Linked DNA regions of Homo sapiens. The protein of the gene in region 4 interacts with the protein of the main gene of each other region in a biochemical or structural test. Each region holds a gene or a part of one and is shown on either strand. Other genes may lie near its edges.

Region 1 (7,024 bases), on a different chromosome or scaffold from region 4:
TGTGTGTGTGTGTGTGTGTGTGTGTGTGTGTTGGGGGTGAGATGGGAGTGGGCAGACCTGTATGGATTCTGCGGTGAGCTTTCAGGTGAGAGCTTTTGGTGTACACTTTGCTGCATCCTGCAAAGTCACATTGGTGAATCCGTCTTCTCTTCAAGTCAAGCGACTCTTCTCCCTGCATTTGGGCCATTGCTGCTGGTCTGATCAAAGAAATAGAGATAAAGCCAAACAGTGACTTTAAAGTGAAGGCTAAAAAAATGAATTTACATTCATTGGTGCCACATCATATCGGCTTTTAATTTACGTGAATTTAATGCTAGGTCCCCCCAAAAAGAAATAATTGGAATAGTAAAAACAATTCTGTCAACTAGGCCATTCTGCTCAGTAGGTACAGGTCCCTCAGTAGGTGCTCAGAGAAAGCATGGGAGGTGGTAGTGTTTCCTTCAGTGGTTGTGTTCCCAAACAGTGTGAGCATTTCACTTCAATAAGTTTCATTTTCCTGCTTAAAGAAATTTGTTTTTCATACAACAGTTGTTGCTAAACACAAGCCAACTACTTCCAATTAGTTTCAATATTGAAAGACAAAGCTGTTTTAAACTTACAGAGAGAAACAGTACATAACTACACTTTATGGGAAATTTGAAGATTTTTCAAAAGAAAAATTGATGATCTACAGTTAGAACATAGCTCTACTATAGCATGCATGTACATGCACATGTGTGCACACAAACTCATATACTTTCACTGGAAAGGCAGTCTCCCTATATTTCTTGTCCTCAAATTCTTACTCTTGTGTCTGATCATTAGTTCCACCTATACATATGTGCAAATGTACACACACACACACACACACACATACACAAAGACAGACTTGAAGACAAAAAGTACTCACTCTTGCTGTAGTCCCTGCAGACTCTGCAAGGCTGAGGATCCACTCTCAATTGTACTCTCCTCACTGTCACTTGGAATTTCCAGTGGAGACATGGAGGTGGGGTCAACTTTCACTAAAAGCAAAGAAAGGGAGCAGTGTGAGCTGAAGATGTATGTGCCTCTTTAATCATTTTCAGGATTCCCAGTTTGTCCCACCTTAAGAAGTGGCAGCAAGACAGAAAAATAAAGAAATAAAAAACAAGATGAAAGAAGTGTATTTGCATGGAAGGAAGAGAATAACATTTTATTTTTTTTTTTTGCATAGCAGGGAACAGAAATGCCTTTAAAGTAAGAGTAGTATGAAGAGTTCTGATACCACTATGAGTGGTATCAAATGAGAGTGTCTCTAGGATGTGGTCTGGGTATGATTCATCTTTCTATCTCCAGCTACCAGGACAGGGTCAGCTGAAAAGTTAGTTTCAACGTGTGTGTGTGTGTGTGTGTGTTGAATTGAACTCACTGAATAGCTCCTGGCTGTCCTAAAATCAAATTCTAGGATTAGTCCAGATGTGAGAACATCCACCTTGGCCTTTGTGCTCCTAAACAGAAATAAGTCAATGAGATGAAACGTATACCTACCACCTAGTAGGTGCTTGATACAACCTTCCTTTCCACCTATGTTGGGAGAAGCTGTCAAATATTCCTTATTATCAACCCCTGATGTTTCTAATTCCTAAAAACTCAATCAGGTGGTCAACAGTCTCCTAGATCCAGTGAAACCTTCAAAATTTCTATAGAGAAGAAACTTGGGGGTGGTGATAAGGTGGGGAACAAGTATTTGGTTAAAAGAGTTGTCTCTATACTTTGCATATCATTCACTAAAAAGTTTTAAGCATGTATCTTGAGGTGTGCATGTTTGTGCATGTATGTGATATACATGTATCGGTATCCTACAATTTTGTATACATTATAAGAAAACAAACAAAAAGTAGTATGTCATCTCACTTAAGTTAGAGTGACTATTATCGAAAAGACAAAAGACAGTAAGTGCTGGTGAGTATGTGGAGAAAAGGGAACACTTACACACTGTTGATGGGAATGTAAACTAGTTATAGCCTTTATGGAAAATAGTATGGAGGTTCCTCAAAAACTTAAAATTAGAACTACCGTATGATCTGGCAATCTCCCTTCTGGGTATATATCCAAAGGAAATAAAATCACATGCCCAAAAGATAACTGCATCCCTGTTTAGTGCAGCATTATTCACAACAGCCAAGATGTGGAACCAACCTAAAATATCTATCAACAAATGAATGAATAAATGAAATGTGACATATATATATATACAATATAATATTATTCAGTTATAACAAAGAATAAAATCCTGCCATTTGTGAGAGCATAGATGAACCTGGAGGACATTATGTTAAGTGAAATATGCCAGGCACAGAAGGACAAATAGTGCATGATCTCACTCATATGTGGAATCTAAAAAAGTTAATCTCATGCAAGTAGAGTAGAATGGTAGTTACCAGAGGCTGGGGTGGCTAGTGGGGAGGGGGATGGGGAGATATTGGTCAAAGGATACGTAATTATAGCTAGATAGGAGGAATACATTTCAAGAGATCTATTGTATAGCAAGGCAAGTATAGTTAATGATGATACATTTTATTTATTAAAATTGTAAAGAGAATGGACATTAAGTGCTCTCACCACAAAAATGATAATGAGGTAATGCATTTATTATTTAGCTAGATTTAACCATTCCACAATGCATATGTACTTCAAAACATCATGCTATAGATGATTAAAACATACAATATTACCTGTCAATTTTTAAGGGTAAGAAAATACAAATTTTGATACTTTCTTCTTGCACTCCAATTGTTTTATATGTGCCCCCTAAGGTTTAGTAAGCCCCCCATTTTGGATACTGATGTGGTTTGGCTGTGCCCCCACCCAAATCTCAACTTGAATTGTATCTCTCAGAATTTCCACATGTTGTGGGAGGGACCCAGGAGGAGTTAATTGAATCATGGTGGCCAGTTTTCCCCTGCTATTCTCATGATAGTGAATAAGTCTCATGAGATCTGATGGGTTTATCAGGGCTTTCCGCTATTCTTTCTTCCTTTTCTCTTGCTGCCACCATGTAAGAAGTGCCTTTTGCCTCCCACCATGATTCTGAGGCCTCCCCAGCTATGTGGAACTGTAAGTCCAATTAAACCTCTTTTTCTTCCCAGTCTCGAGTATGTCTTTATCAGCAGCATGAAAACGAACTAATACAGACACCATTGGGCCAATGCCCTTAGCTTGGAACCACATTGAGCACATTTAAAATTTATCCTGTTTATTTAGAGTGGCTCTGATGGACTGATGATATTATGGGGACTATTCAAAGCTCCTTCAAACCATCCTTTGATGTTACCACTGCCTTTATCTCAGCATAAACTGTCACACGAGGAATTTTATTTCCTTTTTTGTTTGTTTCCTTTTTTTGGTTTGTTTGTTTGGCTCTCCCTTCATATATGGAATGGATATCACATCTCAAAATAAGATTATGAACACTTATCATTACCACAATTAACCACTAGTCAATAATAATATTTGTATTCAGAAGACCAGTGCAGAGTCTCAGCAACTTGATGCTTAGTAGTATGTTGTTTTTCAGCCTCCTACATTTAGTACAGGGCATCAAATTTCAAGGGTAGATACTCTTTTACAGTAAGCTGAAATCTGCTTCCTAGTCATTTCCACCCCTTGGCCTTTCCGATTTATGCAAAACATTATCAGCCTGCTTTAGAGGCCACATAATTTTCCTTGATCATTCCTGATTACAAACTAAAACAGATATACCTCTGGGAGGAAAACTAGTGGTTGGGGGATAGTGGTGGAAGAGAGACTTAATTTATACCTTTCTGAATTCTGAACTTATTTTAAAAATAAAATAAAATGGAAGATTATAGCATTTGAATTCTCTCTTGGACAAATTTTCAAGTTTGTTTGTTCATCAAATTATCTGTTGCAAGACAACTCCTAGCACTGTGTTAAGTTCTCTGGAGGCATACATAAAAAAATTAAGATAGAGTATTATTTTTCAGGAATTTACAATTCAGTTGTGAATAATGCCCAAACTCTTGTGATACAGGCAAATAAATAAGTAAAATGGAAAGTGATAGATGCCAAATGAGGAAGAACACAGGGAAGATGACAATATTTCAATTACTTCTTTTGTAGGGAAGAGAAAAGGGAAAGTATTGGTAGAGGCAGGAGCTAATACTGGCTAAGTATGTTTGAGATAGAAATATTGTTCTCAACTTTCCCACCAAAGCATTCTGAATGGCATAAAATAAACACATTCTCCTGAAAAGTCCGAGGGTGGATGCCTTTAGTAAGCTTCAACTATTTTTGAAGCATGTGGTTTATCTTAACAGGTTTTTAAATTTTGCATTTTGTAATACAAGATAATCATATTTTAAATATAAAATGCTTAAATTATTTAATATCAAATAATGTGGAAGTTCCAGGAAGTTGTTTGATATGTCACTGATAGATATGCATACTTGTACTTGTTTGAGAAGCATGGTCTAATCAAGACTCATTGTACATTCTTAAGCATTAAAAAGACATAAAAAACAGTACTTTTGAAAGATTACTCTTGAAGCAGTGTGCAAGAATAATTGGAGGAAGTGAAAAGAGACAGGAGATAGGATGACTCTAAAAGGGAATAGATTCAGGAAGGCCAGGAAAGAGGCAATATTGTTACTTACCTGATCCAGCATTTTTACCATCTCCTCCAATGAGTGGGACTGTAATGGCTGCAGGGCCCCCATCTGCAGGCAAAGTAGTATACACCATGGGCAGAGACTGCACTACCACTGGGATGGTCTTCAGGCCACCCATCTTATTTGGCAGACTGACTGAGGGGATAGTGTGAATGACATGTAAGATCTGCTGGCTACCAGTGCTCTGAGAGGAGGTCAGGACAGAGCCTGGGGTCAGAACAGTAGGAATGTTTGCTGAAGTGCTCATGTCAGATGTTGACGTGGACACCACAAGGGTCTGGGGAGAAGACTGTGGCTTGGGGGGACGTATTGGAGCTTGTAGCATGCTAGCAGGCTGGAGAGGAGCCTTGGGCTTGTGAAAGGAGAGGTCAACTGGTTCCACTTGGGGCAGGCTGAAATCACTAGCCAAAAGTTCTTCTGGGGGCTCAATCTTGATGTCATTAAACAGTGCTGGGTTCTCCATGGGGTTGGCATCCAGGAGTGTTGGAGAAGTCATATTACTTCTGTATTCTATCTCAGGGGGATCTCTGTTCCGAACAGAAGCAGTGACCTTAAATAAATAAACAAATGAGAGATGCATAAGTCAGTGTTAGTACCCTGAAGAGACATGCAAGCAATGTAAAAAAGAAATCTCTATTCATTTCACATGGAAGGAATACATGGTGCTGGGAGAAATAAGGCAGGAGTAAACTAAAGAGAAAAACAGACGGGAAACTTTACTATCTGTAAGTACCAGGTACTGTATCCGGCAATTGTTAAAAATTATTTCATTTAACGTTCACAATAATCTTGCAAAATTATTTAAAGTCAACACTTTCTGAGCATCTACTATAAGCTCAGTGGCAGCACACATCAATAAAGTACAGCCAATAAGTACATACCAACATATTAAATATAATGATAGAATAATGTGAATAGTTTATAAATCATACCATAATAAATAATGTAACAGGCATACAAGCAAGGCGTTTTAGAAAAACAAAAGGGAATGACTCATTCTGACTAGAAAGGGAAGGCTTCAAGGAGGAGGTGATATTTCAGCTGAGTCATAGAAAATTAATAGAAATTTTCTAGGCAGATAAGAGATAAGAAAGATATTCCTGTCTATAGAGCCATAACAACAGACAGTATAATTATAGAATAAACTATGAAATAAACTTGCAATACAGTTAGTTGTATTATATGCAAAATTGAACTCTGCAACTTTTTAATTCTGGGATTTTTAAAAAAAACTAATAAATGATCTAAATGATCATAAATGATTTAAACTAATAAATAAATTTATTAGTTTAAAAAACCAATTTATTAGTTTAAAAAACCAATAAATACATTTATTAGTTTAAAAAACCAATAAATACATTTATTAGTTTAAAAAACCAATAAATACATTAGTTTAAAAAACTAATAAATACATTTATTAGTTTAAAAAACTAATAGTTTTTAATAAAAAACTAATACTTTTTTTAAAAAACTAATAAATGATCATTTATATGTAATATATGAAATAAAGCCTCAACCTAATTAAAAACTTTCTAAGAATTCCATGAATTCAAAGGTCAAGGATATAATGAACTGTGTATGCCACTGCCAAGCAACACTCTGGATCTTGAAGATGATTTTGGAGATGGTGGTACCACCTCTTTAGCCAGTAAACAAACAAGCTTCCATTATCTATCAGCATGATACTTGAATTATGGGAGTTTTAAATTATGAAAAATGTTAAGGAATACATCCTTTATATAAAACATAACCACTTTTAGTTTTGTATATTTGGAAGATGAGGAAAGGTAGAGTTCAATGAAAGGTTGGGTGATAGAAGATAATTGTTTGGAAGAGAGGAGTAACAAGGGAAGAACTATTTCTGTGAGATTTAACTAGCTTCTTAATGAAGATTGATTGAAAGAGGAATAAAACTAGATTCAAAGACATTCAAAAGAAAGCAAGTGGAAAAATCTCGATGAGACATGTAAAAATATTTGAGTATTGACTGGATATTGGACAATATTAATGAATTAGTTAATTTTAAGGTGTGATAATTATGTTATGCTTATGATTTTTTAAAATTTAGGTGAGAGATAATAAGGGTCTGAATTCAGAGAGCAATAAGTGGCAGGGGAGGCAGTGTCTTCTTGCTCTGACTTTATTTTAAAAACCCTCAGAGCGCTGCAGTGATCTATAATCACACCACTGCACTCCAGTCTGGGTGACAGAGCAAGACTCTGCGTCAAAAACACATGACAACAATGCTCAGAGCAGGCTGGGAATGAGTAACGGCACCAAAAACCCATCCGTGCTTTGTCTCCAGAATTTGGCCAGACTGCCATCTTCTTTTCCCTTCTTTTATGCTACAACACTCTTGGTTTCTTGATTTGCCA
Region 2 (7,024 bases), on a different chromosome or scaffold from region 4:
ACACCGGGCACGGGTCTTAAGGAAGCGCAGATCCCATTTAAAGGATCCACAGCTGCTAGGACAGTATTTAGCTCACTCATACCTGGTGGCGTTGAGAAAAGTTTGCCTATGAAATGCCTGTCAAGCAATGAGTGATTTTTTTTTTTTTTTTGAGACGGACTTTCGCTCTTGTTGCCCAGGCTGGAGTGCAATGGTGCGATCTCTGCTATCTCGGCTCACTGTAACCTACATCTCCCGGGTTCAAGCGACTCTCCTGCCTCAGCCTCCCGAGTAGCTGGGATTACAGGCATGTGCCACCACGCCCGGCTAATTTGGTATTTTTAGTAGAGACGGGGTTTCTTCATGTTGGTCAGGCTGGTCTCAAACTCCCGACCTCAGGTGATCCTCCCGCCTCGGTCTCCCAAAGTGCTGGGATTACAGGCGTGAGCCACCACGCCCGGCCATGATTTCAAGGAATAATTCAACACACAATAATGTTATCATCACTTGGAAAAAATAAGGCGAGGTGTTCAATCTTGGAAAACTTACCACTGAGACAGGGTCCATGGCCTCTTGCTTGACAGGAACTGGGTCAAACATGAGCATTCTTTTAGTTAAACCTTCTAGGGTGCTCTGGTGTTTGGCCTAGAAAACAAAACAAGGTATCCATCTAAGTCTCAAGGTTACTTTAAATACAAACTAGTAAAAATAAAATATAGCCTGGGCAAGGTGGCTCACCCCTGTAATCCCAGCACTTTGAGAGGCTGAGGCAGACGGATCGCCTGAGGTCAGGAGTTCAAGACCAGCCTGGCCAACATGGTGAAACCCCGTCTCCACTAAAAATGCAAAAATTAGCTGGGCGTGATGGCACTCGTCTATAATCCCAGCTACTCGGAAGGCTGAGGCAGGAGAATCGCTTGAACCCAGGAGGCGGAGGTTGCAGTGAGCCGAAATGGCACCGCTGCACTCCAGCCTGGGTGATGGAGCGAGGCACTACCTCAAAAAAAAAACATAAATAAATAAATAATAAAATGAAATATAATACCTCACCCCACTTCTCTACTCCTTTTTCTCCCCTACCCCTGGAATGGCTGGAATTTGTTTCCCTTACCTATGAAAGATGCCATTTACATAATTAAAACCAGACTCCATGGTCATAACCAGATGAGAGCCAACCAGCATTTCTAACTCAATACAGAAACCCTGACTTTTCTGGAACACTATGTACAGCCCCTTCTGAGCGCCAAAGCTTGCTTGGGATTGCCGTGCAACTCTTTAGGGGTTCAGATTACATATGACCGTTAAACACCTTCCCTTTTCCCCGATGTTGGTCGCAGAAAAATTAGGGGAAAAAAAGACGAGCAAAAAGAAAACCTAGAACCAACCATCATTAAAATTTCATTTTTATTCTAACAAACCCTCTTTAAAACTGGGCTCATAGTGTACATGGTATTTAGTACCTATCATTTCACTGAACAATTTATGTGAAAATGTTTCTTTTACAGTAAGTATGGTTCTGCACCAAGTATGGTTCTGCACCATCAAATCCCCCGTGCCACTGTGTGAACACATCAGTTTACTTAACTTCTTCCTCTTTATTAGGCACTTAGGGTTGCTTCTAAGTTTTCGCCATTACGAACAGCAATGAGCCTCTTTAAATATATCCTCCTGCACACCATTAATTTTTAGGATAAGTTTTCTGTAGGGGAATTCCTGGGTGAGAAGTATATACATTTCCCAAAGCGCCTGATGCCATCACCTGGCAAAGACGAACTATTATTTTCATTAATAAAATACAACCTGTTTCCCCAAACCTCCACCAGCAACATGTGTTATCACTTGTGTTATAAAAGATAAACACCTTGCCAACTTGTTAAGTCTCAAGATGGCAAATGATTTTTATTCTAAATTGATTTGGTTATTGAAGTTATTTTTTTTCAGCTCTATTGACCATTTGGATTTCTTCTTTTGAGAAATGCCTACTTAGGGCTTGACAGCCTCCACCACTTCTTATTGTTTTCTAAGCACTTTTCACATATGAAGAATATTAGCTTGTTTTCACTCAGATTTCTCCTCATTAGGAAATGAGCCTATTGTAAAGGAAATGTCCACCTTGATCCTGTCCTGTCTTTTTCTTCTGTTGTTCTCTGCTTGCCATCCCTTCTATTTTCTTCTGTGTTCTGTACAGTCCACTTCTAACACTAATCTACATCAAGCCAACTGCTTCTTCACAGGACAAAATATTCAGTCTGCTCAATGTTCAAATGTGTCTCCTCAGTTACAGAAACACTGTCCTGCTACTAGACACACTTTCAGAAATCGACTTCAGGCACTCATTAGCCAAATTTGGTTTAAGTGCTCAGTGCTTTGGTTAGAGGTAAGGTCTTCATAGATCACCCTGGTTTGAGTGGCAAAGTGAACAAGTTCTAGAGTGAGTTCCAGCTGAAGAAGCTGCAGGAATCCCGGGTTCTGGATTCCTTCTTGTATTTCAGTGTTAAAAACCCCCATCCCCACCTCCATGATAGCAATCCTATAATTTGTTGTGTTGGTGCTCTACGGGTTATACTAAGATATCTTCATATACAATGATGGAAGTGATACTATGTCGTTCTTGTGCTTCGTTGATTCATTGAAGAAAGCCTGTTTTGAATCTCATGACAACACACGAATTTCATCAATAACTCGACATAAGGCCTTGACTTCAAAATTATATTTTCCTCCATCACAGGGTGTATTGTAATCTGCAAACACAATTTGATACCAAGCTGCTCAAATCAATAGTGCTACTACCCTCTTATGTATTCCAGCAAGAACTAACCGCAACAGCCAGTGAAAAATAGATGATTTCGTAATGAGGGATGAAAACGCTTTTGTGTCTTGGGATCTATTATTAAGCAGTTCCCAGACTAGCAGCTGTACGGATGAACATGGTTCTAAGAATTGTTGTCCAGTGCCTCACAGTGGACCATAAACAAAAGATGTGAGATCTCCTGCTTACATCAATGAGGTCAGATCATTTAGCAGCCCTGACTCACGGCTGGTCACCCTGTGGCAGCCTCCCACCTCCTCACCCCCAGCTTTTTACACTGAATTCACTCTTCCAGACTCATCTATCCCACTAGAGAGTATCTTGATGCAAATGCTTCTAAATTAAAGCATTCACATTCTCAGGTGTATAAGGAAGGAGCCATGGTTTTGAGACTCAAGCAGGCTGCAAACTAACGCAGCCATGGGGCAAGAGTGATCATTTGTAAAATGCAGAGCATGGCTCCCTATCTGCTTCTCAAGGATTTAGGTCTATCAAGTGAGATTAAAACACACACACACACACACACACACACACACACACACACTCCTTTTGCCCTCATTTATATCCATATGCACATAAAATCTGGATGTATATTCTGTACACACAACACTAAATGTGTTGGTTCCAACTTCCGGAGCAAAAATGTCTGGCGTTTGCCTCTTTGCTAACATACACTAGCCTTAGAGGTCTATCCCCCACCCTTAAATAAAACTCTGACTAGATTCAGTTTCAAAGTTAACAGCTGCCTACATCCTGTATGAGGTCTCATATAAGGCCTTGTCACTTCACAACTGTACCACTGCAACAACAGCTTCTGAGCGAGGCCAGCATCTCCCCACTTCATGTCATCCTGCACGCTTTACGACCACTAATTGCAGCACAGCAGAATAAATTAAGATGATGGGCTCTGGAGTTCCTTTTCGTTCAAATTCTAAGTCTACCATTTAGCTCACATAGCTTTCAATGACTTTGTCTAATGCCCACAGCAACGACTACTGAATCCTTTTAGAAATGAATTACACATTAATGTGCTACATCTTTTTATCATTAAGACATTATTTAAATCACTATTGTTCTTTAATTTTTTGTTTTATCTAAGTTTAAGGAAATGCAAGACTTGTAATCCTAAGAGAAACATAGTCTAGTATAAAACGCTGGCACTGACTGGGCGTGGTGGCTCATGCCTGTAATTCCAGCACTTTGGGAGGCCGAGGCGGGTGGATCACTGAGGATAGGAGATTGAGACCAGCCTTGCCGACGTGGTGAAACCCCGTTTCTACTAAACATACAACAAATTAGCCAGGTGTGGTGGCGCACACCTGCAATCCCAGCTATTCGGGAGGCTGAGGCAGTATAATCGCTTGAACCCAGCAGGCGGAGGTTGCAGTGAGCCCAAATAGCACCACTGCACTCAGCTTGGGCAACAAAAGCGAAACTCTGGTCTCAAAAAAAAAAAAAAAAAAAAACACACTGGCACTAACAGAACCTGATTTGCTTTTACTAAAAAATAATTACAAGGGTATGTTTATTTGCCCAGAAATGTACCTCAAAGTAATCCAAATGTTGATGAAGGGATGTTCTCATTACAGAAGTATTTAAGTTAATAAACAAAGAAGGAATGATAGGATTAGAATACCTATTTTTGAAATTCCTAACTAAATAATGCATCCCTGGACATTAAAAAAAAAGTCCGTGCAAAATTCAAATATCACAAAGAATAGAATCAAACTCACTATTTCACATGTCTACAAGCACTTTGTTTCCAATTTGGTAGCTTCTGATAATAGCTTTTAAATGATGATGCTTTTAGTGATAGTCACAGGATATAAAACAAGAAGATAAAGGACATGCAAAGAAAACGTCTGGAACCACACACCCGAAACTGTTAACAGGAGCTTCTTGGGAGTGGCGGTGGGTGGGACAGCTTTCTACACATCTGTGTTCTATTTTTAAAGTTTATTATTTATATGTATTTTTATTTTGAGATGGAGTCCCACTCTGTCACCCAGGCTGGAGTGCAGTGGAACGATCTCGGCTCACTGCAACCTCTGCCTCCTGGGTTCAAGGGATTCTTCTGCCTCAGCCTCCAGAGTAGCTGGGATTACAGGCATGCACCACCACTCCTGGCTTAGTTTTATACTTTTAGTAGAGACGGGGTTTCACCATGTTGGCTAGGCTGGTCTCGAACTCCTGACCTCAAGTGATCTGCCTGCCTCAGCCTCCCAAAGTGCTGGGATTACAGGTGTAAGCCACTACACCCGGCCAAGTTTATTATTTCCATAATCAAAACTTTTAACAAAGACAAGATAGGGAAGCCAAGCTAGGAAGGAACTAAATTTAGAAACAGAATCAAACACATGAACAGAAATGAGGCTTCTGTTTATGTATTTGCAAAAAATTTCTATACTTTGCACCCATATCTCTGACTACAGGGACCACTTTTGTCATTGGTACTAATTTGTTTACAGGTTCTGATCTACAATCATAAAAGAGTGACTGTACAGTCTTCAAAGTGCCTTCCACATAACTGAGAAGTAACTTAAGCCCTGGAAGAATTAGGGTCCCTAAACTTGGCAGTCTTTGGTACCCATGGGCGGCTCAGTGCACTGGGGTTATTACCATTCTGAAAGAATGCTAAGTAAACCACAAATGCTTAGAAAATCTATCATACAGTACTGACGGCAATCTGAAGCAGAACCAGTAGGTGGCGCACTAAAACAGGCATTAGAGACCAGGACACCGGCAGTAAATCAATCCAGTTGGCCAACCTCGGGGTCTTTAAACCTAGTGGGTTTTAACCAGGCTCAGGAATTCTATTAATCATTTTATGTGGGTATCACAGAGAAGAGGAGGCTCTAAATGTGGTTCTATTTTTTTCTGACGACTATTTTCCAATCATAAACACATTTACATCTTCATTATATTTAACTAGCTTAGCTAGCTTTAGAAATACATTAGCTAGTCTTAGAAATACATTCTAATGCTAAACTAAGCAATACCAGGATAACAAAACTGCATCCAAAAGGGGGGGGAAGGGCAAAATTGTTTTTATGAAAAATTCTAAGTTATTGAGGTGCTTAAAAGCAAAAATATACAGGAACATCACCACCGCCAAAATAATTTTCCATAACTGGAGCAAATGCCATCTTCCCCAGCTGTGTTATTTTGCAGAGAAAGGCCAATAAAAATGAATGGTCCTCAAAAAGGAGAAACAGATTTCCCTTCATGCTCTTTCCACCTGCACTTCTGACTTTTCAGATGTTAAAATAAGGGTCAAATTTCTGTCAAAATGCAAGACTGCGTGATTATAGATTAAAAGGGTTGGTGAATCATTGACATGAAGTTTCAGAAGTAATGCAGTCCTGCTTTGGAGCCCTATCCAGTGGTGTCTGAGACCTATGCACAATGGCTTTATGGAGTGGGGAGCGGGGCTGCAGGTGAGCTGCAGGGCTTAGAAACACACACACAGTCCTTCATGGAAGACGAGGTTAGGGGGTTACTAAACCTCCTCTGAAAGCAGCTTGCCTGGAGGCTAGAGCATGATTTATTACAGAAACGACCTTACAGACAACTGCCTGCCCCTTCCTGAGGGAGGAGGAAGGTGGAGAGAGAATGTGTACGTATCAGGAGCAGTTTCCTGTTTCTTGGGGTTAGAGCAAGACCTGCCTCTGACGTTCTCCCTTCTCATCTCCCTATTTCTTCCTTTCTCCATGCCCTCATTTCTTCCCACAGATCCTCAAAGGGTGCCTGCATTATCTTCCCCAACCCAGGACTGACCCCGAGGCTCCAAATCACCTGCCTTCCTCCAAGCAAACTTCCGTCTCCCAGCTGACCTCGGCTAGGCATACGGAGCAATACACTAACACACCATCGCTAAGCCTCCCTTTCAACTCTTCTAAGTTTTTGGATTTTTCAAAGAGAAAACATGTTATCTTCCCCTACCCTTACTCCCCAAAGGAACTTAAGGCAAAAAAAGAAAAAAAAAAAAGGCGGTGTGTGCATGTGTGTGTGTAATTCTTGGCTAGGAAAACTGGGCAGGCAAGCAACATCCCTGTAGCTAAACTTCCTTTCCAGAGAAACTTTTCTCTCTTCGTTTCTTTACCCAAATTCTTCAAAATCCCCCAATGGCTCAAGTATTATTTAAGGACAGTTGCCCTAGCCAGAAATACAGGGGACAGGCAACAGATGTCAGCAGGCATTTTTAAGCTGGAGGCTCCCTGAAACAAAGCTAAGCAC
Region 3 (8,018 bases), on a different chromosome or scaffold from region 4:
AACCTTGGATAAACCGACCTCTCAGGCTTGCACAATTTGCTAATTAAAACAGGGAGCACAGCTGCTTCAGTTGTAAGCCGGGCGTAGGTCACCTGATCTGTAAAACTACAATAGTGTCAGAGAAGTAAGTGGGATAACATTGTTGCTTTGGTAAGCTTTCAAATGATGATGATGTCAGCCTGTGAGTTCTGTGTCCTGCTTAAGTGAGGTTTATAAGGATGAAGAAACCAAACCCGACGGCCAGTACCTCAGGCTGTCACAGCTGTCTGTGGGCACAGCGTTTGAAATAGTCTCTGTGTGGTCAGTTTCTACCAGCCCGACTTTGTACTCTGGCAGCTGCTGGTGTTAAATATTCCCAAAAGAGTATGTTGTTGCCCAAACAGTGTAACCCAGAAATCTAGCTGTTTACAGTAATTTGGATTTGTATTTAGAGGTGCAGTTTTTCTCTAGAGGGGATAAAGAAGTGCGGAGCGTCTTTCTCTCCTGGGGGAGGTGTGTTTCCATTTTAGTTAATAACATGCCCGGAGAGCTGTCTGTCTGTCTGTTAATAAAGCAGAGTCTCATTCATTATCTGCTTTCATTTGAGAACTGCAGTGCTAGCGTGTTTTACAGTGAAGACCTCGGTGTGATCCTGAAGGAGGGTTTCATCCTCCTCTCATTTCCCACTGGATCGGCAGGAAGCGTTAGCAGGGTGGACATGCCACAGAGCTTCCAGATCTGGATCAAAGGTGGCTGTTGCTGAAATACTTATGCAGAGTCTTCCCTGACTGCTGCTGGCTAATGTGTGCCCTCTTCTCCAACACACCTCCTCCGAGCCTGGCCTGGCACAAAGCCTTCTTTCTCCAAGTTATTTCAGATCAAGCAGCCAATGTAGACAGTGTCTACACTAAAGGGCGTAAGAACAGTGGGGTGCAGTGGCTTCAAACATGCTCAGGATCCAGCTGAGCTTTCACCAGGCTTTTCTTGCCATATTTACAGATGCCACTCTGTGCCTTTCTAAATATTTTAAATGTTGTGTGCTCAGCCGATGCACTTGGCTTCTGGAAAGTGCGCTGAGCTGAGAGCTCGCTTCTCTTCCTGCTCAACGTGCACTGGGCCGGGTGTTGGGGCGTAGCTGCCCACACAGACAGTGCTTTGAAGAGTGAGTGGTTTCGGTTGGCCATGGGGTTGTGTCTAAATTGCCAATATACTGTCTTTCCAAAGGTTCCTAAGTGTGGACAGTTAATGCAGCAGACAGTTGTTAGGGTAATAGTGAGAAGTTGGGATGCTTAACAAGCTTCTAAGGAGTTTGAACTTTGAAAAATAGACAAGAGAAAGAGTTCTTAAAAAAAAAAACTTTGATAGGACACAGCGGAAGTAATTACAGTTTAACTTTATGGGACGTTTCTGTGACAGGCTGGGTAACTATGCTTGTCATGCGTCCTAACCTGTGCCCTGAGATTGTGCTGTAATGTTCCTTTTGGTGGTGTCCAGCTGTCTGGCAAGGAGCCTGCTCGGCTGGAGCATTGTGAAGGGCATGCTGTAATTACAATATTGTGATGTGGCGTTGTTGCATAACTCAAGGACACACCATTGTCGCCTACCCACTGTGATGTCGCAAGAACGAGATTTGTGAGTTTTACTCCAATTGAGCTTTTCCAGTGATTGACTGCCACTCCCTCCCAGCCTTTCGGTTCTTTAAAATGAAAGATAAACCTCAGGACAACCAAGACCTGGGGAAAAGACAGTCTTTGGGAATGTAATTTGGAAGAATGGATCCAGAAAAACAACCAGGGGCTCTTAACTCTAGTTTCGGCAGGAGATCCCGAGTTACAGACCTGAGCTCGTAAACAAACGCTCACCACTTTACAGTCGCCGCCTCATCCTGAAACTCCGGTCAGAAATGCTGGAAGGCCTTTGCTAATGCGCAGTGAAAATTAGGGGCACAGATGTGGACGGACTGTGCTTGGTCAGTAATTGTTCTCCTCCAAATCAAGTTTATGAGAAATTTCATATAAGGAAAAAAACCCTTTTGTATCTGTGTCTATATGTACAGAAGACCTTAACAACCAAACAGAAACTTAACCCCTTTGGTTTGGTTTTGTTTTCGAAAGCTTATGCCCAATTTTAAACTTCATGTAAGCTTATGTACTTATTTTAAACTTTAAAACTATTAAAAGTTAAACTAGATAGTAAATTCGGCACTGTCTAATGTGCATACACCACAAACATATAACCCTAAATTCAGCTGTGTCTAATGTGTATACACCACACATATATATAACCCTAAATTCAGCCTGATGTACTTATACCACACATATATAACCCTAAATTCAGCCTAATGTACATATACCACACACACATATATATAACCCTAAATTCAGCCTAATGTACATACACCACACATATATATAACCCTAAATTCAGCCCTAATGTACATACACCACACATATATAACCCTAAATTCAGCCTAATGTACATACACCACACATATATATAACCCTAAATTCAGCCCTAATGTACATACACCACACATATAACCCTAAATTCACCCTAATGTACATACACCACACATATATATATGACCCTTACCTCTTGTTAGCATTTATTGTAGTTTGTTTTTGAGGTTAGGAGCAGTTAAGCAATAATATGAATTTGTGTTGGTTTAACTTTTATGAATTTTAGGGCAGAACAAGGAGTTAATTTCCAGATAAGCTTGTTCATGTTCTTAGAATAAAGTGTCAGCCTCATTAGAAGTTTTGTAATCGTGGTCTGCATCCCAGCCATGCACCTGCTGGGTCCTGAGTAATCCTCGGAGCCCAGAGCAAGGCAGAGCAGACACGGAGCAAACGCTGCGTTCAGCTGGGTATTTTAGATACGTCTGAGAAGAGTTTTAAAATAAAACTTGAATTTGAAAAGAAATAGTGAGTACTTACCAGAGGTGGGCAGTGCTGGGATGTGGCCGGTCTTGGTGCCGGTGGCTGGCGGTGCTCAGGAAGCAGTACCTGTTCTCACGCTTGCTGGGTGAAACTGGAGCCTGCTGTTCCAGTGGGAGGGATTTAAGTGTAGGAGTTGAGCCCTCGGGGCGTAGAGATGCACCTGATATTCCTCCTGCCCGCAGCTACGATTCATGTGTTTGCACCCACCGAGCTGCTGCGGGCAGCCTCCCCAGCACTGGACCCAGCAAGCAAGTTATCTCGCCGACTCCCAGCGCTGTCTCCAGACTCAACTGTCTGTGAGTGCGGCGTCGGTGCTGCCTGGACGGCCATATGTCAGAGGGCTTTCGATGTGTCCGCAGTTAGAATAGAGATTACTATATTCATCAGAATCACACCCGATGAATATTTGGCGTCATGATAAAGACATGTGAGACTTTCCTTTAGAACTTGAGCATGTGTACGCAGGAGGCAAACACTTGGATTGATTCTCAAGCGCGCATACCCTGGGAGGCACAGTATTCATGGCGTCCTTGCCATGAGGTCCAGTGAGGCCTTTGAGGATCTGTGGACCTTCCACCCTCTACCCTGCTCCTGAGAGTCTCTGTCCCTGGTCCTCCTCAGGAGCTGAGCCGGCAGGGAGGGAGCTTATCCCAGAGCCTGGCTGCAGGGACCTGCCGGAGCTTGCCCGACACCAGGCACCGCAAGAGCTGCGGAGCAGGGTGTGTGGGTGCGGGGGAGGGGGCCAGCTGTGCACTCCCGCAAACCACCCTCCCCCCACTTTAAATTGCAGAGGCACTTAACTTGGGGGCCAGTTTTTACCTCCACACCCCCCCACCAAAACTGCTTGCTTGCTTAATCGGAGGCCGCACCCCAGTTGTAGCGAAGGCTGGCATGTGGTGTCGGTTTGAGGACTGGGAAAGGAGGTGGGATGAGCTGGTGTCAGGCCCTTGGATGAGCCTGAGGCTGCAGGGCAGAGGCTGCAGGGCTGTGGCATAGGGACGAGCTGGCCAGGACAGACAAACTGGTTTTTTTTTTTTTTTTTTTTTTTTTTTTTGAGACAGAGTTTCACTGTTGCTGCCCAGGCTGGAGTGCAATGGCATGATCTTGGCTCACTGCGTTTCTCCTGCCTCAGCCTCCCGAGTAGCTGGGACTACAGGCGCCTGCCACCACGCCCGGCTAATTTTTTGTATTTTTAGTAGAGATGGGGTTTCACCGTGTTAGCCAGGATGGTCTTGATCTCCTGACCTTGTGATCCACCCACGTCGGCCTCCCAAAGTGCTTGGATTACAGGTGTGAGCCACTGCACCCGGTCTGTTTTTTTGTTTTTGTTATTTTTTTCCTTAAGACTTAAGATTTTACATGGCTTTGCGTTTACTTTTATATTTAATTCCTTTTTTTTTTCTTTTGAGACAGGGTCTTGCCCTGTCACCCAAGCTGGAGTGCAGTGGTGCGATCACGGTTCACTGTAGCCTCAACCTCCTGGACTCGAGTGATCCTCCCGCCTCAGTCTCCCCAGTAGCTGGGACTACAGGCACGGTCACTATGCCTGGAGAATTTTTTGTAGAGACAGGGTTTTGCCATGTTTCCTAGGATGGTTTAATACCTTAAAATTTTTTTTGGTGGCTTTTGTCCATTGAGACATCCATATACTTTATGAAGTCAAAAAGAGTTATGTAAGTCTTATGACAAAAAACAGCAGTTCCCTGTCCCTCTTACCTATTCCTGGATAGCAAACTATCCCAAACTTAGTGGCTTAAAACAAGCACCGTTTTATTACGTCTTAGGATATATTGTGTCAGGAGTTTGTGGAGGGCCTGGCCGAGTGCTGCTTCTGTTTCATGGACACTGACTGAGGTGGCTCCGTGGGAGAAAGCTGGCAGGTGACTGGTCTGGAGGGTCCAGGACAGCTTTACTCACCTGCCTTCTGTCCTGGAGGGGCAGCTGGAATCCTGAGATCAGCTGGAACCTCATCCTCACTTAGTAGCACTTCAGAGGCCTCCCTAGCAGGGTGGTCAGCTGTATGATGGCTCAGGACTTCAAGAGAGCAAGGCGGAAGGTTCCAGTCCTCCAGAAGGCTGGGCCGCAGATTGTCAGGGTGTCCCTTCTGTCACCTTTCTCTGCTGAGGCAGCCTCGTGCTGCCCAGATGCAAGGCGGGAGCCGAGGGCTCCACCTCTCAGCGGCAGGAGTGCCAGGTGTCTGCGCTACGACTCCCTCTGCCCGGAAGCCCCACCTTGGCCTTTCCTAAGCTGAGTGTTCTGACCCTTGCCATGGAGGGTCCAGTGAGGCCTTTGAGAATCTGTGTACCTTCCACCCTCTACCCTGCTCCTGAGAGTCTCTGTCCCTGGTCCTCCTTGGGAGCTGAGACGGCAGGGAGGGAGCTTATCCCAGCGCCTGGCTGGGTGTTTACCTCCTCGATTCCAGCCTTACTGATCTGTTGGTGGTTCTGTGCCCTCTCTCCCCCTCTCTCCCTTCTCCACTCCTGGTCGAGGTGTTGTTTGGTGGCTTCCCTTCATGGAAGATGGGAATTTGCCTCTCTTTGCCCCTTCTGCCCCCATGTCTGCCTTCCCCGTCACCCAGGGGGTTTTGCCTGCCTCTCTCTTGCACTGGAAGGCCTGCTGCTCGGATCCCATGTCGTCTTTCTCTTGAGTTAATCATTTAGTTTGACATGAGGCACACACCTTTTATAGGCTCTTGAGAAAGTGCAAGAGAGATTTTTTTGGAGGTCTTGAATTATTGAAAATGTTTTTATCTACTCTTCAACCTCACTGATAGTTTGGCTGAGTCTAGAATTTCAGGCCAGAAATCATTTACCTTCAGATTTTTGCAAGTGTTCTTCATTTTCTTTCTTTCTTTTTTTTTTTTTTTTTTGAGATGGAATCTCGCTCTGTCACCCAGGCTGGAGTGCAGTGGCGCGATCTCGGCTCACTGCAAACTCCACCTCCCATGTTCACGCCATTCTCTTGCCTCAGCCTCCCAAGTAGCTGGGACTACAGGCGCCCTCCACCACGTCCGGCTGATTTTTTGTATTTTTAGTAGAGACGGGGTTTCACCGTGTTAGCCAGGATGGTCTCGATCTCCTGACCTCGTGATCCGCCCGCCTCGGCCTCCCAAAGTGCTAGGATTACAGGTGTGAGCCACCACACCCGGCCGCAAGTGTTCTCTATTTTCTCTAGCTTCTAGTACTGTGGTTGAGAACCTTGATGCCATTCTGATTCCTGATTCTTTCTCTCTTAACATTTTAGTGTGAAAATTTTCAAAATACAGACAAGTTGTAAGGATGCTCCAGTGAACTCTCATATGCCCAACGGTGGGGTTCTCCAGTTAACACAGCTGTCTGTGTTCCCTTCCCTTCCCCTCCCTGTCCAGCTTACTTACCCTTCCCTTCCCCTCCCCTCCCCTCCCCGTCCAGCTTACATACCCTTCCCTTCCCCTCGCCGTCCAGCTTACTTATCATTCCCTTCCCCTCCCCGTCCAGCTTATATACCCTTCCTTTCCCCTCCCCATCCAGCTTACATACCCTTCCCTTCCCCTCCCCGTCCAGCTTACTTACCCTTCCCTTCCCCTCACCATCCAGCTTACTTACCCTTCCCTTCCCCTCACCATCCAGCTTACTTACCCTTCCCTTCCCCTCCCCGTCCAGCTTACTTACCCTTCCCTTCCCCTCCCCGTCCAGCTTACTTACCCTTCCCTTCCCCTCCCCATCCAGCTTAATCGTCTTGCTGCATTTCAGGTCAGTTGCAGACATCAGTATGCTTTGCCCCAAACACTTTTCAGGCATATTCTTATTAGTTTATGATTCTTCTTTCAAAGGTAAGGTTTACATTCAGTGAAGGGCACAGGTCTTAAGAGGATCATTTAACGAGTTTTGACAAATGTGTTCTCCCATTATGGCCCCAGAGAGTTCCGTCACAGCAGTGCCACCCTTCCCCACCCAGACCGTGGCAACTGCAGGCTGATACTTTTCCACCATGGATTAGTTTTATGTGTTGTAGAATTTTATGTCAGTAGTGATTCCTGATTTTTATGGACAGCTGTTTCTCACCTGCAGGTTCTTTCCTTTATCCTCAGTAGTCTTAGTTTTCTTAACTTTATATTTCAACACTTCTGTTAAGTACTTGGTTTCTGATTTTGGTTTCCATGAGCTCTGTTTTGTTCTGAGTGTTCCTTTTGTAGCATCTCATTCTCATGCAGTACTTTCAGTAGCTTTTCTTATCTAAGGATTTTAGTGATAGCTTTCTTTTAGTGGGGAGTGGAGGAGTGGGGGTGGATGTTCTCCGTGTGTGTGTGTGTGTGTGTGTGTGTGTGTTTAAAGACCTGGGGTCTTGCTGTGTTACCCAGGCTGGACTTGAACTCCGGGTCTCAAGTGCTTCTCCTGCCTCAGCCTCCCGGGTAGCTGGGACTGCAGGAGCGCCATGCCATGCCTGGTGCCCTCCCTGCATCGTCAGTGTGGCTGCCTGCCTTCCAGGGCCTCTGCTGAGCACCTCGGAGAGTCAGCCCTGTCTCCTGCCCCAGTGCTCCTTGGGTTAGGCCTACCCTGCCCCTCCCCACAGAGTTCTCTGGTGCCACAGATCTGGAGCTTTTTAGGGACCTGTCCTGTGGATCAGGGGGAGTCTGAGTTGCCTCCCTCCAGGGGAGGGCTGGGCTTCTTGGTCTGAGGCATTTCCTGCTGTCCCTGCACTTCCAGGCTCCTCCGTGGTCCTGGTGCTGCCTTCCCTGCCCTTCCTCTTCTACCCTGTAGCTTATTTCTTGAAAAAAGAAAATGGTCCGTTTCTGCTGTTTTTAGTGGGATTTTACCCGCTATTTTTTACATGTTCAACCCCCTGTGTTACTCAGAATTCTTGCGATTAGGTTTTTGACCAAATCTTAGGAACCGTCATGGGGGTGGCAGCTGATGTTTCTTGCGTGTTGATGGTGTGGGGCACCGTGCCAGGTGCATCACCTGCACTGGTCCATTTACTCAGAAGCACCACGCACCTGGCCTGTGGAGTCCCCCCACCCACAGGTCGGGAACATGGCCGAGGTACCCAGCCCAGAGGGCGATGAGCAGAGTTACACCAGAGGTGGGGGGTGCTTCCCTGGGTGGGGAAGGAGGGGTACCT
Region 4 (7,024 bases):
GCGAAGTTGGTAGTAACTAGCCAGACTTAATTACCTAAGCTCCCTGGCCCTGACTCTTCATTGGTAAAACAGTGACTAACTATCACCTGTGCCTCTGCGAGGACAGCGCTGTGCTTGGCCAGGGCTGGAGAGCCGATCTCAAGGCAGGTGTCTGGCCTTTTCCCGGACATAGTGAGTCTGTGATCCAGAGTCTGACCCACGTATTCAACGGGGCCTGCCTCACTTCCTGCTCTAGGATGTTTTACATTCACTGCACTTTTGGAGTGAATATTCACAACAGCCTGGCTCCTGTTTGGAAGCCTGAGGCAGGCCCCGTTGAATACGTGGGTCAGACTCTGGATCACAGACTCACTATGTCCAGGAAAAGGCCAGACACCTGCCTTGAGATCGGCTCTCCAGCCCTGGCCAAGCACAGCGCTGTCCTCGCAGAGGCACAGGTGATAGTTAGTCACTGTTTTACCAATGAAGAGTCAGGGCAACGCAACAACACACAATGGCCCAGCGAGCTAGTGCCAGACACTAAGTAAGTGCTCAAGAAATGGTTGCTCTCTAGTTACTTGAATAACAGGTAGAGCGCACTTGAATGGCTGCATAAGTTTCTGGAGCACCAAATTAAGTCTGCAAAACATAGAGGCGAACACAGAAATTCCTCCATGGAGAAGACGAGGGCAAGACGAAACGGGCCAGATCGCACCGTCCTACCACTCTGCGCTCGGACAACCTCTAGTCACATGCCTCGCCAGGCTTCAGGTGTTGGGAGCCGCCGGGGTGAACAGCAGAGAACGCAGCAGAGGCGCGCAAATGTCACTCGTCCTCGACGTGGAGTTCTGCTGAAGGTCTCAGTGGCCCTCGCTGTTTCCCACAGCAACTGCCACTGCGCTATTTGTACTACAAGGAAAACACCCAGATTCGAAGGTTATCCAAGAACCGTGGTCACCCCCAAACACTGCCCAGGAGACGAGATCCCAAGCCGGTCAAGTGGAAATGATGCCGCTGTTTACCGTTTGCTTGCAACTCAGCCACCATCGCGCAGTCAATCAACGAACCTCACCACTCACCACGACCCCAGGAGTCCCCATGAGTGCCCGGAGTCCGCGACCGCTGCGGGGTGGAGGCGGCTCTGGCCTGGTGCAACCAGGTCCCCGCCCCTGCTCTGAGCCTCGAGTGCGGGCTGGGGGCCAACCTGGTGTCCCGCGTGGTCTCGAGGCTCCTACCTTGCCGGGGCCTCGCGGACCGGAGAGGGGCCGGCGACCCTGCTGGCTTGAGGCGGCGTCTAGCTGGACCCCCGCCGCCCCGGGTCCGAGCGGCCCCGCCCAGCACAAAGGCCAGCGGGAGGAAGGAGGAAGTGGGCACGGAGCGGGGGGAGGGGGCAGGGCCCATTCTCACACCTCTCAACGACTTCCCCGCGGCGGGAAGCGGCTCCATTTACAAGTGTAAAGGCGAGGCGCGAGGTGGGGGGGCCCGGGGGTGTCAGATACCGCGGCCCGCGGAGGGGCCAGGGTGGGGCCGCCAAGTGCCCTGCGGGGGGAAGAGGGCACAGCTGGGGCGGGGCCGCGCCGCCAGGTGTTCTGGCCCGCGGGGGCGGGGCCTCCAGGTCCACCCGCCGGGAGGAGAGGGGCGAACCCCAGGGATGGAGGGGGCTTCACCTGGGGCTCGGGAGCCAGGAACCCCGGGACCCCGGGACCCCAGAAGCCCGGACGCCAGGAGGCCCGTCCTTGCAGCAGGGTGGGGCACCCCCGCGGTCCGGGAAATGCAGGAGACCCCGCCCCCTCCAGGTAGAGCGCGGCCAGGTGTGGCGGACTGGCGCTCCCCGCAACAGAAGGTCGCGCAGGACACCGGAAGTCGTCCTGGAGTCAGTCTGAGCGGATCGCAGGGGTTCCAGGCGCCCCAGGCCCCCCACACCGCGAGTCACAGGAACAAGGAGGAAAAACAGCCTCTTTATGACTTGGGGGAGGCAATTCAATATTTCTTCCTGGCATAAAATAGGAATTGCTCTATTTACCCAGCCCGCAGGAGCGTCGTGAAGATTAATGACTGTGAAATGTTTTTAAGATCAAAAACATTCCCAGATTTTACTTGTAGGCACTTATATGTGCATATTGGTATCTGTACAGCAAAATATACTCTTTATTGATTGCCCTCCTAGTGTGACTTCTATTCCGTAATCTGAAAGCCCCGAGATAAAGGAATCAGGTCTGTCTCTGCCTGCTCCTGAAACACTAGGAAATATGGGTAGGAAATGTCAGGTCAGCTGGGCATCTACGCTGAGCCTCTATCCAGTCCGCAGGGCAGATAGAGCAATCCAGAGTGCGGACCACAGCTGAACGTCTGGAGAAAGGGAAAAAACTTTAAGATTATTGGTCACCCCCCACTGGGAAGAAAACACAGTATCCTCCCCAGCTCATTAGGAGGTGCTCCCAAAGCCTGAGTCTCCATCAGGGTCTCGGGTGTTTGCAGAGCCTTGGCTGGCACTGGGAGCCAATGGTCAGCCAAGTTCTGCCTGTGCCAGGAGCCCACGCAGCCCATCTGGCCCGGCAGCTCCAACAGCAAGGCCTCCCTGTTCCGAGCAGAGTAAGGCCACATGACCGCACAGAGGACAATGTTGGGCTTCCCAGGGGTGTCTCCACTCCAGGCTGAACATTCTCAGTTCCCTCAACCGTTCCTGGGACATGGCTTTAAGAGCTCTCTCGGGCCCTGCCCGCTGCTGGCGCTGGCTGTACTCCAGGTGGGCAGGCCTGGGAGCTGGCTGCAGCAACACCAAGTGGGGTGTCCAGGATCCAGATGGATTTGCAAGCACTGCCCCCACCCGTTCCCTTGGTCTCCCTGGACCTGAACAAGCAGCGGATAAGCCGACTGTGTTTGCACTTCTAGACTGCACGAAAGACCATCCATCAGCAAAATAATAAACTCACAGCTAGAGCTCATTTAAAAGGAAAGGTGCACAAACTCCTGGCCTTTCACCCCCTCCAGCAGAGAAACCTCGAATGCTCTGTTTTCCCCTCCAAACTCTTCTCCTCTCATTTCCCCTCTCCACCCTCCCGCTGCCACACACACACCTGCGGCAGGTACAATACTATCACTTCCAGGTTAGATTCTGGCCACTTACACCATAAAATGATTCTTTGCTAGCCTCATTTTATAGATGAGATTTTTAAATTCCATCTTGGAAAAAGAAAAGCCCCATTAGGCCAGAGGAGTTGATCTCCCTCCACGGTCTAGGTCTTCGGTTCCTTCCAGAGAAACTTCCTCAGGTTCCATGACTCCATAATAAAGTTTTTGTTTGTCCTGGGACGGGACAGATTGCTGGAGGCCAGATTTCAGGCATGGCTGGAGCACAGCCACGATAAGCTGGACTTTACAAGCCCTGAGCTTGCTTGTGCTGCAGGAAGACCTACACACACTGTCTCTGTGACACATCCTTTAACGTGGCCCTTCCAGGCTTCTGCCACAACGTGGGCTGGAATGAGACACAGAAATATTGCCACTATTTCCAGACAATCTTTAAGGCAGCTGACAGTTTCTTTTAGTCATAATTAAGGATTTGTTTTAATGCAAGAAGCACATTTCTGCTGATCAGAGGAGAGCTTTGGAGGAAGCACAAATCAGCAATACAATGGAAGGTAAGTATTTTTGTATTTTATAAATGAGAAGGATTTTTAGAACCCCACGGATGAAAAGCCCAGCCCTCCCTCTCCCCCCTCACCCCTGCCTCCAGGGCTTTTCTGGACTCACAGAAGGCAACAAAACCAAAGGCAAGGCTGGCCACCACCAGGATCAGGGGCAGACAACAGCAGCTATTCAGGGTTCCCATCCTTTAAACACCAACCGATCTTTGGGAAAAACGAAGTCTCTATTATTACCTAGGACAAAAGTCACAATTCTCTATAGAAACAAAATCATCACTTGTCCCATTCATAAGATCCCAACCATTTCATCACAATTTTTGTGAATATTAAGCCAACTCTAGGCAACCATCTGTTAAATTTAGTTAGGTAAACAGCTAAAGCAGATCACTTTCTAAAACATTCACTGAGGGAGGGACTAGGCATATACACATGCAAACTACAACTGGTTCTCACCGAGTGTCGTTGCTAAAAAAACTGAACAGGCTTCAGACACCAACAATGGTTAATGATCTACATATTATCTACATATTCCACTTAAGGTGAGGGTTAGAAAGTGAGGGGCCAGGAATGCACCTCCCTTAAGCTACAGAGTTGGTTCCACTTTGGGACCTCGGCTCCCACGTGGAAGGAGAAGGGCTTTGTGAATGGGGGAGGAGCTTTTTCCGAAATGGCAGCAGCTACGCAAAACATGAACATCCAGCAAAAACTTATTTTAGCTGCATTCTCCCTAATGCTACCAACAGATTAAAAACTACTTTAAAGTCAGGAGAGGAGTAAAAATAAACACAACTTCCTCCTGTGACTTAAGATGCCTCCTTTCTGAAGTTGAATATCATTTCCTAAAATCACATTTCGAGGGGGTAGAAAAGGTCTGTTTACTTTCCTTGAGGAACTCTTACTATCTGCCGTTAAAATCGTTCCTCAAAAAAGCAGATTACTGAGAAGAGAAAGCACACGACGTTCCTTAGCAGTCCAGAAAAGACCACCTTCTAAGAAAAACTCTGGAAAGGGGGCAGGCCAAATCTCCATGCCCGGCAAAGACGGATGAATGTGCCCCTGGTTCCCATCCCGTCCACAGCTCCTGAAGTTTCTGTGTTCTCCAGCAGTCAGAAGAATGAAGGCGAAACTAGCCCTTGGCTCCCATGGTCAACATTCCACACAAACAATGGCCTGGCTCTCTCCCTATTGTACATTCTGTATTCATTTGTGAATCCCCCCTTTTTTTTTTTACACAATGTGCAAAGCCCTTCTTTTCACAGGCGAAGTTCTGAATGCCCAAGTGCAGCCATAATTTAGGCTTTAAACATTAATAATGATAGCTAAAAGCAAACTCCAGATTATGCCCAAACATTAATTTGTGAATATCATTAGAGTCACACTGATGGCTTTTGGATACTCTCCATTAAATCATGATCAAAAGGGCCACTGAACACCTTTAAAATGGTTCTTAAGTTTTTAGCAATTATTAAATATAATTTTCCAAACCCCAAGATAGGATTAAAAAAAAAAAAACTCTTTCATAAGTCTTTGATACATATTCCATCAAACACAGACTTGAATGAAAATTAACTTCAAAAGATGAGGTGGGGAGGAGAAGCCTTGCATTTTCCCTTCTTTCCAGGAGTGCTGTAACTTTAACTTGCAGCAGCGTAAATTAAGACATGCTTACCAGCTGTAAGGGAGAAAACTGATATCTGCCAGGCCGCACAGTCTCTAAAAGTGTATCCATTCCAGCATTTCATGTGCCCACTAAAAGTTTTCAGCAGGGTAAGTTCACACAAGCATTCCTCCCCTAGCAATTCATAGAAAGATTGCTGGGGAAAAGACACCCCGAGATTTCACCACATGGGTCACTTCCATTAAGTACAAATACTTCTTTTTCCAGGGACAGACACACTGCCCTCCCATTTTTTAGTTACTACAAAAATATGTTCCACCCTGTGTAACAGACCTACCATCCCAAAGTGGAAATATTACCTGAGCTGTGCCCTGCCCAACTGATAAATTTCCCTTCCCAACCATGTGCTGTATGAATATATATTTGTGGCCTGATTCAGGGCCACAGGACACTAGGGCTGCTGCTTTTCCCTGATAGATTAACAGAGGGACCCAGGCTGCATGCACATACATTATGATGACAGCCCCTCTCTATGGAAATGACAGTGGTAAAAAAATGACAACTGGGGCTGCCATTCTACCATTGCTGTAAACTCTTTAAATTTTTTCCATTTAGGGAAAGCGTTAAGTGCAAAGGGTATAACTTTGCTTTCAAAAATGATTCATGATGTTAGTGAACTGTTGGCAAATGGCATTCTGGTGCTAGATCTCAGCAGGGCTACTCCCTCACTCAGAGGTGTCCTTTTCGGTTTTTTTTCAATCCGTGAATCTCAAGGATTTCAAATAGTGTGAGCTGTTTGTATTTTAACAGCAATGGTAACAATAAAAATATCATTTTAAAATCCAGTGCACTGCTTGTTCAGTACATACTATATATATTCATCATTTCTTTGCCTTGTAGCTGGCTACTCAGAAACTAAAAAGTTGTAGGTTGATTTTCTGGTTTTGTTGTTTGTTGTTGCTGTTTGTTTGTTTCATTTAATCTCTCTTTGAAACATTTTCCAGACTTAAAAAGTAAAATTTCTGGAGTTTTAAAAGTTAAGACTGAAGTTATTGATTATTCTCTGAAAGGGTAACTGACAAACTAGTTAATAATTATACAGATAGCAAGTTTTACCGTTTCATCTTGTGTACACGACCAGATTAACAATGGCAGGGAAAGCACACACAACTTGGCAGGGACAGGAACAGGTGTGCCCCGACTCTCAAAAGGCCAAAATATCTCACCAAGTATGTCACTGGCGTGTTTTTTACAATGGCAGTAGTGTTTGTTTTTAACTAGCCAAACGTTCTTACTTTCTTAACTTTAGAGAGATGTACTTTACGAATATCTTTCTCTTCACGGAATTGATGATTCAGTTCCACACATAAATTGCAACTCGTGCAAGGAAATGATTTTTAGGGACAATGAGGCTTTTTAAAATCAGTTAAGAAAAGGTAATTCACCCTGCCCCTCCCCGCAGGAGAACACCCATTCAAGGGTCAGTTTCAAAGCTCCCAGGCGAAACCGTAAATAACTCACAGGGTTCTGCATTCAACCTGCAGACTCTTATTAAGGTACAATTAGAGAGGGGGTTGTCAGGTGGGGGTTAAAAAAAAAAAAAGAGCGGGGGGGAGTCGGTATTCTTTACCTTATCTTTCTGAACAGGAAAAAGAATTAAACCCAAACCACCTAGTCAGGTTCAAAACAAGCTCCAAACCCAAGATCTTTTAATTCCCTCTAATAACTGCTTTCCACAGGGATGTAACTGGGGTCCCCTACCCCTGGGGCACAAAAAACC

The links.
Region 1: the proteins of CTBP2 (region 4) and KLF8 form a complex in vitro, tested with the Homo sapiens proteins (one study listed by BioGRID).
Region 2: the proteins of CTBP2 (region 4) and KLF3 form a complex in vitro, tested with the Homo sapiens proteins (one study listed by BioGRID).
Region 3: the proteins of CTBP2 (region 4) and ZNF750 interact in far-western blotting, tested with the Homo sapiens proteins (one study listed by BioGRID).

What each region holds. Positions count from the first base shown.
Region 1 is NC_000023.11:56,263,355-56,270,378, reverse strand, and holds part of KLF8 (Krueppel-like factor 8), read right to left. Parts: intron 5,200-7,024; coding exon 4,635-5,199; exon of another isoform or gene 1,467-4,634; coding exon of another isoform or gene 1,426-1,466; exon of another isoform or gene 1,002-1,425; coding exon 890-1,001; intron 198-889; coding exon 58-197; intron 1-57. UniProt on the Homo sapiens protein: Transcriptional repressor and activator. Binds to CACCC-boxes promoter elements. Also binds the GT-box of cyclin D1 promoter and mediates cell cycle progression at G(1) phase as a downstream target of focal adhesion kinase (FAK).
Region 2 is NC_000004.12:38,674,187-38,681,210, reverse strand, and holds part of KLF3 (Krueppel-like factor 3), read right to left. Parts: intron 625-7,024; 5' UTR 586-624; coding exon 529-585; intron 1-528. UniProt on the Homo sapiens protein: Binds to the CACCC box of erythroid cell-expressed genes. May play a role in hematopoiesis.
Region 3 is NC_000017.11:82,837,012-82,845,029, forward strand, and holds the start of ZNF750 (zinc finger protein 750), read right to left. Parts: upstream 3,012-8,018; 5' UTR 2,916-3,011; intron 1-2,915. UniProt on the Homo sapiens protein: Transcription factor involved in epidermis differentiation. Required for terminal epidermal differentiation: acts downstream of p63/TP63 and activates expression of late epidermal differentiation genes.
Region 4 is NC_000010.11:125,150,560-125,157,583, forward strand, and holds part of CTBP2 (C-terminal-binding protein 2), read right to left. Parts: intron 1,723-7,024; exon of another isoform or gene 1,647-1,722; intron 1,276-1,646; exon of another isoform or gene 1,215-1,275; intron 1-1,214. UniProt on the Homo sapiens protein: Corepressor targeting diverse transcription regulators. Functions in brown adipose tissue (BAT) differentiation. Isoform 2 probably acts as a scaffold for specialized synapses.